3 linked regions of the Homo sapiens genome follow. The protein of the gene in region 3 interacts with the protein of the main gene of each other region in a biochemical or structural test. Each region holds a gene or a part of one and is shown on either strand. Other genes may lie near its edges.

What was found.
Region 1: the proteins of NR5A1 (region 3) and ZNF653 form a complex in vitro, tested with the Homo sapiens proteins (one study listed by BioGRID).
Region 2: the proteins of NR5A1 (region 3) and TRERF1 form a complex in vitro, tested with the Homo sapiens proteins (one study listed by BioGRID).

The regions. Positions count from the first base shown.
Region 1 is NC_000019.10:11,482,929-11,488,879, reverse strand, and holds the end of ZNF653 (zinc finger protein 653), read left to right. Parts: intron 1-976; coding exon 977-1,588; intron 1,589-1,721; coding exon 1,722-1,893; intron 1,894-1,999; coding exon 2,000-2,111; intron 2,112-3,109; coding exon 3,110-3,224; intron 3,225-4,738; coding exon 4,739-4,838; intron 4,839-5,020; coding exon 5,021-5,198; 3' UTR 5,199-5,451; downstream 5,452-5,951. UniProt on the Homo sapiens protein: Transcriptional repressor. May repress NR5A1, PPARG, NR1H3, NR4A2, ESR1 and NR3C1 transcriptional activity.
Region 2 is NC_000006.12:42,441,927-42,448,966, reverse strand, and holds part of TRERF1 (transcriptional-regulating factor 1), read left to right. Parts: intron 1-7,040.
Region 3 is NC_000009.12:124,480,736-124,483,439, reverse strand, and holds the end of NR5A1 (steroidogenic factor 1), read left to right. Parts: intron 1-434; coding exon 435-682; 3' UTR 683-2,204; downstream 2,205-2,704. UniProt on the Homo sapiens protein: Transcriptional activator. Essential for sexual differentiation and formation of the primary steroidogenic tissues. Binds to the Ad4 site found in the promoter region of steroidogenic P450 genes such as CYP11A, CYP11B and CYP21B.

The DNA of each region.
Region 1 (5,951 bases), on a different chromosome or scaffold from region 3:
TCATGCCTGTAATCCCAGCACTTTCGGAGGCCGAGGTGGGCGGATCATAAGGTCAGGAGATCGAGACCATCCTGGCTAACACAGTGAAACTCCATCTCTACTAAAAATACAAAAATTAGCTGGGCGTGGTGGCGGTTGCCTGTAGTCCCAGCTACTCGGGAGGCTGAGGCAGGAGAATGGTGTGAACCTGGGAAGCGGAGCTTGCAGTGAGCCAATATTGCGCCACTGCACTCCAGCCTGTGTGACAGAGCGAGACTCCATCTCAAAAAAAAAAAGAAAAGAAAAGAAAAATTCAGCCAGGCACGGTGGCTCATGACTGTCATTCTAACACTTTGGGAGGCTGAGGCGGGCAGATGACTTGAGGTCAGGAGTTTGAGACCAGCCTGGCCAACATGATGAAACCCCGTCTCTACTAAAAATACAAAAATTAGCCGGGTGTGGGCCAGGCGCGGTGGCTCACACCTGTAATCCCAGCACTTTGGGAGGCAGAGGTGGGTGGATCACGAGGTCAGGAGATCGAGACCATCCTGGTGAACCCCTATCTCTATTAAAAATACAAAACATTAGCCGGGCATGGCGGCACATGCCTGTAGTCCCAGCTACTCGGGAGGCTGAGGTGGGAGAATGGCATGAACCTGGGAGGCAGAGCTTGTAGTGAGCAGAGATCGCGCCACTGCACTCCAGCCTGGGTGACAGAGTGAGACTCCATCTCAGGAAAAAAAAAAAAAGCCAGGTGTGGTGGCGCACACCTGTAGTCCCAGCTACTCGGGAGCCTGAGGCAGGAGAATCACTGGAACCGGGGATGCCAAGGTTGCAGTGAGCTGAGATCGCACCACTGCACTCCAGCCTGGGTGACAGAGTGAGACTCTGTCTCAAAAAAATAAATAAATAAATAAATAAAATAAAATAAAAACTAAATAAACAAATACCAGTGGCTGCAGCTATCATAACCACTCCCTTTCTTCTGTCCCCACAGTGGGCAATGGGCTGGTGGCTGGCAGCTCTGACTCATCCAGCTCTGGCTCTGCCTCTGACTCTGAGGAGTCTCCTGAGGGCCAGCCGGTCAAGGCTGCGGCAGCGGCAGCGGCAGCGACGCCCACCAGCCCGGTGGGCAGCAGCGGGCTCATCACTCAGGAGGGCGTGCACATTCCCTTTGACGTCCACCACGTGGAAAGCCTGGCCGAGCAGGGTACCCCGCTGTGCTCCAACCCAGCAGGCAATGGGCCTGAAGCCCTGGAGACAGTGGTGTGCGTGCCGGTGCCTGTGCAAGTGGGTGCGGGCCCCAGCGCCCTCTTTGAGAACGTGCCCCAGGAGGCCCTGGGTGAGGTGGTGGCCAGCTGCCCCATGCCAGGCATGGTGCCCGGCTCACAGGTGATCATCATTGCGGGCCCTGGTTACGACGCTCTCACGGCCGAGGGCATTCACCTCAACATGGCAGCAGGCAGCGGTGTCCCCGGCAGTGGACTGGGCGAGGAGGTGCCCTGTGCCATGATGGAGGGTGTGGCAGCCTACACCCAGACAGAGCCCGAGGGTAGCCAGCCTAGCACCATGGACGCCACCGCAGTAGCAGGCATCGAGACCAAGAAAGGTCTGGGGGACCTGTCGTGGCCTCTGGCCAGGGGTGGTTGGGCCTGGGAGGGGCCGGGCGAGGAATGGCCCTCGAAGTGGGCACCTCGGCAGCCTTCGTCCCCTGCGGACACCACCCTGTGTCCACCCTGTAGAGAAGGAGGACCTGTGCTTGCTAAAGAAGGAGGAGAAGGAGGAGCCAGTAGCCCCGGAGCTGGCAACAACGGTGCCTGAGAGCGCAGAGCCTGAGGCAGAGGCGGACGGGGAGGAGCTGGACGGCAGCGACATGTCAGCCATCATCTATGAAATCCCCAAGGAGCCTGAGAAGTGGGTGCCGGGGCGGGCAAGGGTGAGGGCGAGGGCTAGAAGCGGCCCGCAGGCCCCCAGCCTGCCTGGTGCGGGAGCCCCGATGTCATGGCCCCTTCCCCTCCAGGAGGCGGCGGAGCAAGCGGTCGCGGGTGATGGATGCTGACGGCCTGCTCGAGATGTTCCACTGCCCATACGAGGGCTGCAGCCAAGTCTACGTGGCCCTCAGCAGCTTCCAGGTGAGGCCGCCACCCGGAGCAGCCTGGGCCAGGCCCACAAGGCCCAGGCCATGGCACCACCAGGATGTCCTACCTCTAGTTTGCCCCTTGAAATTTGACGAGGTGTCCCTGAAGGCAAAGACAGGGACTTGTCACACCCCAGGACCTGGCATGGGAGGATGCAACAACAGGCCTTTGTGCCATGCCATGCATTGATTGAGCATGTATTAAGCACTTAGTGCAAGCCAGGCCTGCAAGCTGGAGCCAGGGTTGTTCTAGTAAGTTAAAGAGTGAAGGAACAAAGGAATGAATCAATTGGGGCTGCCTGTTCCAGGCCCACAGAGGCTGATAGCCCTCAAATCCAGTCCCAGTCCTGCCACTGGCCACCTGTGAGACCTTGGCCAAACCACAGAGCCTTGAACCTCAGTTTCCCCATCGATTAATTGGGCTAACAGCTGGGCCCTTCACAGAGTTGACAGATACCCCAGTCCAGAGCCTGGCATATAGTAGGTGTTCAATAAAGCTGCCCTTGGCCAGGTGCGGTGGCTCACACCTGTAATCCCAGCACTTTGGGAGGCCGAGGTGGGCGGATCACGAGGTCAGGAGATCGAGACCATCCTGGTTAACACGGTGAAACCCTGTCTGTACTAAAAAATACAGAAAAAAATAATAGCAGCCGGGCGTGGTGGCGGGCGCCTGTACTCCCAGCTACTCAGGAGGCTGTGGCAGGAGAATGGTGTGAACCCGGGGGGGTGGAGCTTGCAGTGAGCTGAGAGAACACCACTGCACTCCAGCCTGGGCGACAGAGCAAGACTCCATCTCAAAAAATAAAAAAAATAAAGCTACCCTTTGACCCCAGTTGTGCCCCTGGGAATCTCTGAGCTGGGCAAGGGTACCCCTCTTCCCTCCTCCTGGGGAGGCCAGCCCCAGCCTGCCTTCCAGCTGCCCTCATCTCTCCCCACCTCCCAGAGCCCCTTCTGTGGGCCTATGGGACCCACTTCTGCCTGTCTCGTCTCCAGAACCACGTCAATCTTGTGCATCGGAAAGGAAAGACCAAAGTGTGCCCTCATCCTGGCTGTGGCAAGAAGTTCTATTTATCCAACCACCTGCGGCGGCACATGATCATCCATTCAGGTCAGGCCCTGGGCCAGCTGGCAGCATGAGCGGGGGACACAGGGACATGGGCCTGGGAGCCTGGGCCAGAGCTGGCGGGTCAAAGCCCAGTGCTGGGTCTCCGGGCACAGGACTACACCCCTAGGAGCCTCCTCCCTGTCCTCAGTAAGCTGTAGCTATGTGAGCCACAGCGACAGGAACTATTACCAATCAATCACAGGAATTGGGTGGGGCTGGCCATCTTCCCTCCTATCCCCGCGACCCCATGCCCCATGATCCCAAGAGCAGGTCTCATGCGAGACTTAGGGAGCAGCTGACACCGCCACTGCTCTTCCAGATTGGAACCTATAGCAGCACCTGGGGCCACAGGCTAGACCAGTGCCCACCCAAGCAGCAGCAGGAAGGAGAGCTGGGCAAAGAGGAGCAGCTGGCTTGGGACTGGGCTTCTGTTTCCACTTGTGGCAGAGATGCAGGTCTTCTGCATGGGCTGGGGACATAGTGGAGAGCCATGGTGCCTGTGTCCAGCGATAGGGCATGCCCTGAGGGCCAGAGCTTCTGATATCACAGGAGGTCAGAAGTTTGGGGGTTTTTTTTGTTTTTTTTGGTTTTTTTTAATGTGTGTGTGGTTATTTTTTGCAACAGAGTCTCACTCTGTTGCCCGGGCTGGAATCCGATCTTGGCTCACTGCAGCCTCTGCCTCCCGGGTTCAAGCAATTCTTCTGCCCCAGCCTCCCAAGTATCTGGGATTACAGGCGCTCACCACCATGCCAGCTAATTTTTTTTTTTTAGTAGGGACAGGGTTTCGCCATGTTAGCCAGGCTTGTCTCCAACTCCTGATCTCAGGCGATCTGCCCACCTTGGCCTCCCTAAGTGCTGGGATTATAGGTGTGAGCCACCGTGCTGGGCAGAAGTTTTTTTTGTTTTTGTTTTTGTTTTCATTTTGCGAAATCACCCAAAGTTCAAATATCAGGGACAAGGCCGGGCGTGGTGGTAATCCCAGCCCTTTGGGAGGCTGAGGTGGGCAGATCACCTGAGGTCAGGAGTTCGAGACCAGCCTGACCAACATAGAGAAACCCCGTCTCTACTAAAAATACAAAATTAGCTGGGCATGGTTGGTGGCACATGCCTGTAATCCCAGCTACTCAGGAGGCTGAGGCAGAAGAATCGCTTGAACCCGCGAGACCAAGGTTGTGGTTGCGGTAAGCCGAGATCGGGCCATTGCACTCCAGCCTGGGCAACAAGAGCGAAACTCCGTCGCAAAATATATATATACACACACACAAGACAAATTCAGACCCATGTTGGCTTGGTAGTGTGCACCCTATGCCTCTCAGGGACCCAAGTTCGATCTCAGTTCTGCTTGATGGCGTCTGTGGGCAAATGCACGGGAAGGACGTAGGGTTTGGTCGGCCTGCACCTGCAGTCCTGGGAGATCCAAGGAGACAGCCTGATGCTCCTTCTAGCATCAGAGTCTGCAGCACATCAGAGACACCCCATAGCCCACCGTCCTCAGCCTCGGTCCCCACCGCCCCCAGGTGTCCGTGAATTCACCTGCGAGACCTGCGGCAAGTCCTTCAAGAGGAAGAACCACCTGGAGGTACATCGGCGCACCCACACCGGCGAGACCCCCCTGCAGTGAGTGACAGGCCGCCCCGTGCCGCTAGAGGATTGGGTGGGAGGGGATCCCAGCAGGTCCCAGGGGCGGCTTCGCCCCAACGCAGTGTCTGGGCCCGGTTCCACCTGCGCTCGGCCTTGTAGGGCCCCGCCCCGCCCCGCCCACTCTGACCCCGCCCCGTCCCGCCACGGGCTCCCGGCAGGTGCGAGATCTGTGGCTACCAGTGCCGGCAGCGCGCGTCGCTCAACTGGCACATGAAGAAGCACACTGCGGAGGTGCAGTACAACTTCACGTGCGATCGCTGCGGGAAGCGCTTCGAGAAGCTGGACAGCGTCAAGTTCCACACGCTCAAAAGCCACCCGGATCACAAGCCCACCTGACCCACCTGACCACTGACCGCCCCTATTTATTCGTCCGCTCGGACACCACGCCCGGGCTTGCCGGGGCCTGGACAGCTGCGAGGGCCGCCCGGACCGCGGGCCGGAAGGAGGCGCCCCCGCCCCGCCCCAGAGCTGGGCCCCCTGGGCAGGTTCCCCACCCCGCCCCACCGCATCCTTCTCGGAGCTGGTGCCTGGGGCTGCATTGCTGGAACTGTGTCAAGAGAGCAGAGTGAGATTAAAGAGCGAGAAAGGAGATGCCCTTCCCCTAGGCCTGAATGATTTGGGGTGCCAGGCCCCTCTCTGTCTCCAGCCTACTTGATCCCTTCCTAAGCGAGGCAGGGAACGAGGGATGCCCCTGGGCCCAGCAGCCTCGCACAGCCCCTGCTCCCACAGGATGGGGTGAGGCTTGGGGGTCTGGGGTCTCTGGGCATCTCCCGGAACTCAGGACCCTAATTTCCACTTCCTCCTGTTTTATGGGGCACCCATCTCCCACCCTCAGTGAGCTCCGGGATGAGATGGGGAGGTGTTCAGTAAACCCCTAAAATGAGAAACATTTGCAGCTAGCGACAAGCGCCATGCAAAAGAGAGAGTGATGCGTTGTTTTCCGGGGATGCTGTTTAGGTCGGTGGTCAGGGAGGGCCTCTGAGGAGGTGGCATTTGCGCATAGACCAGAATGACAAAGATCTATCCCAGAAGAAAGCTGGGGGAGGAAATTCTCAGGCCAGAGGAACAACCAGTGCCAAAACCCCGAGG
Region 2 (7,040 bases), on a different chromosome or scaffold from region 3:
CACAAAAAATAAAGCTTGTTTATGATTTTCTTTTTCTCCTTCTTTAATGGGTGGGTTGGTTATAATAACCGAAAGCGTTATTTTTTTGACAAATGTAAGGATTCTCTGTGAAGCTGATTAGCCAGGAAGTGTTAAAATTGTCTTGTGTTCAATAGTTGGCTTAAGTTTACAGTATTGGTAAAGTGACAAAGAACTTAAAGTAGTTTGATGCTCAAGGCTAGGGGAAACATCACTGGAAAGAAAGGTGGGGAAGGTACCAATTTCTAGCCATTTCTGGGCTTTGGATTTTTTATCTTAAAAGTGCGTGGTTTGATCCGTGAGTTCCCTTCCGGCTCTGAAATTCTGTGTCTTGTAAGCGAGGTCTCCAGAGGTCTTGACAGTCTCTTCCTGAGCCAACGGCCAATTGCTTCATGGACTTGGGTGAGCTGATTAACTTCTGTTTTTGTCTTCTCATGGAGAAAGTGGATTTGATCCTTGGTATTCCAGAAAGGTCTCTTGAGTGGCCTGGTGATCTTGACCATCAAACACAAGGAAATACTTATGAATAAATGTCTGCCAGTGTCTTGGACAAAAAATTCTCAATTCTATGCACTAACAGAGAGTGCAGCATGTACATATCCTAGGTACCAAAAATAATTTCTGTTCATCTTAGAAGTTTCTTCTCCAGCCAGTTGGTTAACTTGTCTAATCCTTGGTCAAGTCTAAGGTTAACCAAGCTCTTATTCCCAGGCAGCAGGAGGAGATAGCTTTGGGGAGAAACTGGAGACCAGAAAGCCCAGTGTGGCTTTGCCTGCTTTCTGTGGGTAATTGGGATTTGGCTGAATATTTGTGATAAGGTTCATAATAATGATATAGTATCATTTTTATCACCAGGATTCTCTGTATTTCACTATGGGCATTTTTGGGAGAAGCTCTTGATGTTTTTATTGACTTTGGACATTGCCATGAAAAGTAAGGATTTAGGGCTGGGCGCGGTGGCTCATGCCTGTAATCCCAGCACTTTGGGAGGCCGAGGCAGGCGGATCACCTGAGGTCAGGAGTTCAAGACCAGCCTGGCCAACATGGTGAAACCCCGTCTCTACAAAAATACAAAAATTAGCTGGGCATGATGGTGGGGGTCTGTAATCCCAGTTACTTGGGAGGATGAGGCATGAGAAGTGCTTGAACCTGGGAGGCAGAGGTTGCAGTGAGCCGAGATCATGCCATTGCACTCCAGCCTGGGTGACAGAGCGAGACTCTGTCTCAAAAAAACAAAAACAACAACAACAAAAAAGAAAAGTAAGGATCTAGGCAAGTGGCTTATACCCCAGGCGGTATAAATGGTGCTCATGGTCCTGCTCTAAAGGCGGTTGAATTCAGCTCATTTTATTTCCGACCTCATAAAACTGTGTGGCTGAGGGAGGAGGAAGGATTAAAATCATCTGGGATCTTGTGGATTAATGATATTTCTGAATTTGCATGTTGAAGGGAAACCAGTAAAATAAAGGAGAACTAACGAATAGTTGATTTCTTTTGTGGAGAGAGGAGGACAAGAACAGCTGGATTCCAGTTACTGGCGTGCGTTGCCACAAGGGTGCTGTGGGCATTTTTAAGGAATAATATAGTCTCAGTAACATGAGTTTGACCCCAGGGCTCTCTTAATAAATCTTTTCTTCTGGGCTAAAGAAAACACACAACAAAAAGCCTCTGTGATATTTTCTAAGAATTTTAAGTTCTCAGAGTAGCTGCTTGTAGTAATTTGGTTTACTGAAGAAACAGATGATTCTTGGTCTTTCATCATGGAAGACGATGAGCTGGCATGGGGTAGCATATGCTGAGCTGTTGGGGTTTGGTTTAGCAACATAAACATTTCTTTTTATATGTTTGATAGAGCAGGAAGGGGACAAAGAACCCGTGTGCCTAAATAACAGTGATAACTCTGAGCTCAAAGAACGAGGGTTTTGTTTGTTTGTTTGTTTCTTTGAGACAGCATCTTGCTCTCTCACTCAGGCTGGAGTGCTGTGGCTCAATCTCAGCTCACTGCAGCCTCTGCCTCTCGGGTCCAAGTGATCCTCCTGCCCCAGCCTCCCAGGTAGCTGGGATTACAGGCGTGCACCACCATGCCCAGCTACTTTTAATTTTATTTTAGTAGAGACAGGGTTTCACCATGTTGACCAGGCTGGTCTTGAACTCCTAGCCTCAAGTGATCCGCCCACCTTGGCCTCCCAAAGTGCTGGGATGACAGGCGTGAGGCACCACACCCGGCTGCGGAACGAGGGTTTTTTTAATGCCATAAGCAGCCCTGGTTTCTTTCATACATGCGGCAGCTTCTTATTGAGGACTTACTATTTGCCAGGCACTGTGTTAAAGCTCCAGAAATATATTGATAATTGAAAGAGACATAATCATCTCCCTCTACCCATACCCCTACCCTTACCACTTCACTTACAGTCCAGAGGCAGACATGTAAAGAAATACAGCTTGCCAATTGTGATCAGTGCTCTGATGAAACCACAAGTCCAGTGACTTGGATGGATTTCATTAGAGTAGCCTGGAAAGGCCTCTCTGAGGTTTGGGGGTTGGGGGAGACAGCACATGAAGCAGAGGAGAGCCTGTGCAGAAGGACTTTGGTTTTGGAGAACTCAAAGAGGCACAGGTGGTCAAGGATGAAGGAGGGAGGGCAGCATGAGATGATTGTGCAGGACTCTCTGGGCTTTGAAAAGGTTTACATTTCATTTGAAGTGTAGTGGGAAGCCATTGAAAGTTTGGAGTGGGACTGGGCACGGTGGCTCACACCTGTAATCCTAGCACTTCGGGAGGCCGAAGCGGGTGGATAGCCTGAGGTCAGGAGTTCCAGACCAGCCTGGCCAAAATGGTGAAACACTGTCTTTACTAAAAATACAAAAATTAGGCTGCGTGGTGGCGGATGCCTGTGATCCCAGCTACTTGGGAGGCTGAGGCAGGAGAATCACTTGAGCCCAGGAGGTGAAGGTTGCAGTGAGTGGAGATCGTGCCACTGCACTCCAGCCTGGGTGACAGAGCGAGACTTCATCTCAAAAACAACAACAACAAAACAAACAAACAAAAGAAAGTTTGGAGTGGGAAGCGACAGCCCCTAATTCACGTTTTAAGAAGATTGCATTGGTGGAGAAGAGAGCAGAGAAAGGCAGAGCACAGTAAAGAGGCAGGTGGAGGAGGAGGCGAAGGAGGTGCATGGAGAGGAGTGGGTGGGTGTGAGATGCTCATTAGGAGTAGAATGGGCAGGGCTGCTGTGGGGTGGGGAGAAGCATCTAGAACTCCGAGGTTTCTGGCTTGTGCAGTTGAGTAGATGGTGGTGCTGTTTCCTGAGATGAAGAAAGATTGGGAGAGGGAGGCGGGCAGAATCAAGATATTTTAGTTGGGGCACCACTAAGTTTGAGGTGCCTATTAGACTCAAAGTGGAGATGTCAAGTAGGGTAATCTGATCTACCACCTAGCACGAGATAAAAATGTGGGAGCCATCGGCATGGAGAGAACATTTAAATGCAGGAGAGTGGACAGAATGCCCTAAGGAGCCCGTGGAGAGAGAAGAACAGGCAGTGTGAAGGAGGTGTGTGCTGTGTGTGTGTGTGTGTGTGTGTGTGTGTGTGTGTGTCTGTGTGTGTAGTGTTTCCTGAGGCTGATAAGGCCAGAAAAATCACCATTGGATTTGTTTCATCGTTTTTTGTTTTTTTTTTTTTTGAGATGGAGTCTTGCTCTGTTGTCCAGGCTGGAGTGCAGTGGCGTGATCTCAGCTCATGCAACCTCTGCCTCCCATGTTCAAGTGATTCTCTTGCCTTAGCCTCCCGAGTAGCTGGGACTACAGGCATGTGTCACCACGCCTGGCTGGTTTTTATATTTTTAGTAGAGACGGGGTTTCACCATGTTGGCCAGGCTGGTCTCAAACTCCTGACCTCAGGTGATCCACCTGCCTTGGCCTCCCCAAGTGCTGGATTACAGATGTGACCTACTGCACCAGGCCCTGAATTTGGCAAAATGGAATCTGTCTGTGACTTGTGAAGAACAGTTTCAGTGGAGTGAAGGGTTGGCTGGGACCACGACTGGAGAGAGTTGGGAGGGGATCGTGAGGGAGGAGCTGCGGACAGCCCGTGTAGTCAACTCTTTGGCAAAATTTGATGATGAAAGGCGAGGAGCAGAGAAACGGAGTGGGAGCTGGAAGGATGTGCACAAGGGAAAGAGGTTTTTTGGAAGTGTTGGTAATTTGTGTGCTGATGGGAAAGATCAGTGGAGAGGGAGTGACTGATCAAGAGAAACGAGTTGGGTCAGTTGAGCAAAAAGCCCTTGAGAAGGTCTGAGGGGAAGATCTGGCCTTTGTAAGGGGGTGGGGGATACTTCAGGAACTTGCTCCATCATGACAGGGAAGAAAAACTGATAAGGGGGCAGATGCTAAGGAGTGGGCAGGCAGGGGACTCTGTGGAGGACCGAGATGCTCTGCCTCCCCAGGCTGAGGCTGCCCTGTCCCTGGGAAGGAGTTTGGGCTTAGGACTTGATACCAGCCAGAGACTCAAGGGTTAAGACTGCATCAGAAATGGTACTGCATTTTTCTGAACATTTGACTGCGTTACTGAGCGGCACAGAGGAAAGAGTGAATTCTTTAGCTTGGAGAAAAGAGTCTTCAGTTAAAGTAATTTGGGCCTCACATTAAATTTATTTGAAAACTATGATTAGAAAAAGACTTCTGTGATTTTCAGCCCTGTTCAGAGTTGGTGGGTACTGTCATAGGTTTTGAGCAAGAAGCTCAAAAGAAAAAAAAGCAAAAAAAAAAAAAAAGCAAAGGCTGCCTGTTGTTTAGGTTGTCTTTCACAAAAAATATCCCATGGACTACCAGCCTCGGTGGTTCCCAGCCATGGGGTCTGCATGGGAGGTGGGTGGAAAAGGAGAGAGTCAGAGCTGGATTGAGATCCAGCTCTACACCAAGGCTCTGGACTAGTCGACCTCCGAGCCTCTCTACATCTGTAAAAAGAGGGCTGGTACCATCTTCACCTCTCCTCTTCAAGTTGTGAGAGGGAATCAGATCATGTATGGAAAGTGCGATGTCAACGGTAAGAGGCATAGAACAGAGGCAGCAGTGAGGCGACTTGATCTTCAGCCAGGTCTTCTTTTCAGATATAAAATCTGACAGCCAGCGAAACATTTCCCTTGTCCACTCCCACTGTTGTTCCCTACGTGTAGCTGCCTTCTATTTGGGGTTTTCAAGTTCTCTGTGATCCTTTAGCAAAACTGCTCTTCTTGTCGGAAGGCTGGCCTCAGAAATGCTGGCTGGGCAGTGCCAGTCAATACAGGTTCAAATTCTGATTCCATATTCAGAATCTGGGACCTGCCCACCCAAAGGGCCAAATAAACTTGGTTTGCTCCACAAAGAATCCTGTGAACTGGGTGCAGGAGAACCTTGAACCTACCCCAAGAAACCCGACTGAGGTTCTACAGTCTTAGCCGTCTTCATTTGCATTCAGTGTTTGTTTTGCAAATAAGGATTGTGCTATGAAGCTGAATCTACCTAAAAGCAGTCATTAGCCCTTAGTCTTACTGTGTATGCTGGAAAGTCAATTCTCATTTTAAAAAGATATCCAGTGCTTTTCACTAATCGGGCTCCTGGCCTCTGCCTAAGAAGGTGAAGCTTTATTTATTTATTTAAAAATGATCTTTATTATGAAAAAACTTTAAACATACACAAAAGCAGAGAGGCTAGTATAATGAACTCTCTTGTACTCATCACCTAGATTTAGCAATTATTGAGATTTTGCCACACCTGTGGATAATGGGGCTTCTTCTGTATTTGTATAATAAATATGTGTCGTTGATTTTGAAAAACAGTGGAACTGATAGCAATTTGGTTTCATAGAGAGAAGGAAGAAATCAACGAAAAATCAGAGAGAGAGGAAATGGAGGCCATCACTGAAATAACTCGCATTTTGTAGTTCCAAAGCCTCTTTGACATATCTTATTTGTGTTCTGCAACAACCAGAGAAGGTAGATATCCTCATTTTATAGCTGAGGAAACTGAGGCTCGAGAAGTAAAATTGGAAAATATAAATAAATGATCAACTAAGAGTCACCTGTTCAGCCAGCATCCAAAGCCCTGATTTAATGCCACAATTTGAATGGTTTCCAAATTTTGTGCACTCTGAAATAGATAATACTATACAGCATTAAATAAAAGAATGTGGTACAGAATATATGTAAAAGATCGTGGAAACCAGGAAGATCATCTGGGTGTTTTGGGCTTACAACTCCAATGAGCTTAGTTGGAAATACTCAGATGATTTAAGCATGTTTTTGGCATGACATTTTTGAAAACTTAAATTGTTTGCCTCCATTATTCTGGAGCACAAAGCTTTAAGGCTGCCTTATAATGAAGGCCAAGACTTGACTTTAACAAATTGGGCAGCTATTTGGGCAGCTATTTGCCATCTGTGTCCTACTGTCAGCTCTGTCCCTTCTGTGGGGCCCCTCAGCAGAGGGACCTGGGTGGTCTAGTGGTCATTTCTAGATGGTGTGGCCTCTAGCCCCTGGGCTCTGACTTTGGAGATAACAGGGCCCTGGACAGCTTGCTCCCTCAGAAAGAATCCTTCCTGAGGGCCTCTAGGGGTCTTTGTCATTACAGAGGCTGCTCCTAGGGCCTCCCTTGGTCTTTGGGAAACTGCCCCCAATCTAACTCCTTTGAAAGATTTTTTTTTTTTAAAGGAAAAGAAAAAAAGCTGGAGTTGATGCCCAAGGAGTTTTAATAGGAGTGTCGTTTGAGTTCCCTCTGTTGTCATTACAATAGGAGATACCAAGCTCCCTTAAATTCAACTGAAGGACACCAGTAATGAGGCTGATTCTGAAGTATTGGGGCTTGAGTTCGCTTTTCTTTGTTAATTGGGTGAATACATGCGAGCTGAGGGGTTTTCAGGGGGAGCCACAGTAAGTAAGGACATTTAGGGGCCTCTTTCCTTTTGAAGAGTCTGAGCTTCTTTAGAAGGCAGTATGGAATTCAAACCTCGCAAACGCTCATTCCTTAAGTCTTTCTTGATGGCTCTGTG
Region 3 (2,704 bases):
GGTACTGTCGTCACGCCCATTTTACAGATGGGGGACCGAGAGGTTCAATAACTGCCCAGGGATCCTCCCCGAGGGAGGCTGGTGATGGGCTTCATAATTCTTGTTCATTGTGACCACTGTGGTGATGATGATGGCAGTGATGATGGTGACAGGTGACTGTGGTTGGGTGGTTGATGGTGGCGGTGGCCATGTTCATGAAAAACACAGGCATGTGGGTATTGGTGACGATGGTGGTGTTTGTCAACCAGGGTGACAGCAATGGTGATGGCGACACGGTGCCAACGGGGAGACCATGTTGCATGGTTGGTGGCAGCAATGCCCATGTCTTTGATGGTCATAGGGAAGGTGGTATTGGTGATGCTGGTGACGGTGTTGGCCCAGCCCTGATGGGCATGGATGGTGACGCGATGGTGACCGAGAACCTCCCTTTGCAGATTTGAAGTTCCTGAATAACCACATCCTGGTGAAAGACGCTCAGGAGAAGGCCAACGCCGCCCTGCTTGACTACACCCTGTGCCACTACCCGCACTGCGGGGACAAATTCCAGCAGCTGCTGCTGTGCCTGGTGGAGGTGCGGGCCCTGAGCATGCAGGCCAAGGAGTACCTGTACCACAAGCACCTGGGCAACGAGATGCCCCGCAACAACCTGCTCATCGAAATGCTGCAAGCCAAGCAGACTTGAGCCTGGGCCGGGGGCGGGGCCGGGACTGGGGGCGGGACTGGGGGCGGGGCCTGGGCGGGGCCGCAGCCACACCGCTGGCTCCGCATGGTTCATTTTCTGATGCCCACCGAGGAGCCCCAGCCCCGTCCCAGAGGCCGCTGCCCCTGAGTTCTGACACTGTGTGTTTGGGAAGGTGGGTGAGGCTGGGCAGGGCCTGGCGGAGGTGGAGTGGCCACTGGCACTTGCCTGCTGCTTGGAGTGCCCCAAGGAGGTGGCTGTTAACCACCCGCCCCGCCCCCTCCCTGCTCCCAGCTCTCTCTCCTGGAGTCTGAAGCCTGCAGGTCCGGGGAGGAGGTTCGGGATTCCCTGGTGGGCCTCGACGTCCCTTGGATCAGAGGTCATCCCTTCCTCCTCTCCTGGAAACAGACAGGGAGAAGTTGAGCAGGTATCAACTAGGGGAGGAGAGAGGGTCTCCAGTGTTCCCCCCATAGAGACCAGGAGGGAGAGCCTCTGTTTTGTAAACTAAGGATAACCGAGTTTGCTAAATTGAGAGGGGCTATTGGGCCCTAGAGGACACTAGGAGACTGGTTAGGACAAAAAGACCTTCTCCCTAGCCCTTCTACCCCACCTGACCTCTGCAAGAGGGGGCATTGATACATCATCGGGAAAAAACTTTGCTCCAGGCATCACTGATTCCCTCTCCCACCCAAGGAGAACGTTTGGTACAATCGACATCCTAGCCCCACCCAGAGGTGGCCCTCCCAGGCTGGTATTTATCTGCAAGGTTGTAGTCAAGAGGTTTTTCTCCCCGCTTTTTGTTTTTAAGCTTCTAGACACTCCTTGAAATGTGTGTGTGATGGAGGGAAGGGGACAGATTTGAGGACTGAAGCTGGGGCTTGGGGATTGCCACTAAGTACAGCTGACGGTTTCTCCCCGGACACTCGCCTACTAAGTACCCTTGGGGTGGTGCTGGGTCATTACTTCTGAGCCCCAGCCCCAATCCAGAGAAGCGCTGTTGCCCGCCCTCCACCCACTAGGTGAACAGCAGGATGCCCTGTTGGGGGCTTCAGGTCTCTGTGGGTGGGAATGCAAGTGAACTTGGGAGGGGGCACGGGCCTGTAGATCAGGGATAGCGCTGTTGATCCCCTCTCTGTGGCTCCAACCCGTTGGGTCCCTTGCTGCAAACCCATGAAGCTGGCCCTCAGCTCCCTGACCCCCTGTCCTAGGTCATGAAGGACACTCTGCAGGGTGAAGCACCAGGGAGAGGCCTCGGCTGTCTCCTGTCCCCGGCGGGGTGCCTGCTGTCCGTCCCGCTTTCATGTTACTGTTGCAGCTTGTGCTGAGCCTGCCCAGTTGGAGGAGACTGGGCACCCCTGCCTCCTGCCTCCCGCCTCCCGCCACCCTGTCTCAGTACCTCCCCTCCCCGCCCCCTGAAACATGTGCCCCTGCCAAGGCCGGAGACCCACAGCCCTGAAACGAGAAGTGCCCTTAAGGATCACCCCAGCCCCCACAGCCCTGGAATAAATTTCGCAATTAGTTTCCAGCTACCTTTGCCTGTGTACGTTCTGGGGCCAAAGCAGAACGGCCCGGGTGGATTCCGGGTGGTCTAGGTTGGGGCAGCGCTCTGACTTGGATGGAGGTGGCACGCAGACCCTCTTTGCTTCAAAACTCTGAGGAGGCAGGTGGGTGGCGGGGCCGGGTGGGGGGACACCAGGCACTGTTGGGGTTTGGGACCCACCTCATCCCTGGGACCCTGAGGCACTGGGAGGCCAGGGGGATGCTGTAGCCTCTCTGCCTGTTGCATGCTGGCCATGCCAGCTCAGCCCCCATCTTGGGGCAGAAGGAGCAGCCATTTAAGGGGCACCTACTGTGTGCCACCCTCATCTCACTGTCCCCGCAGCAGCCCTGTGAGGCAGGGGTTATACTCTAGGAGGGGAAGGCACTTGCCAAGGGCCCATGAGCCACAGACCTGGGAGACCAGACCCCTCAGAGCCCTGCCCTTTCCTGTCTGCCCCACCACGTCCCTCACAGGTTCCTCCCCAG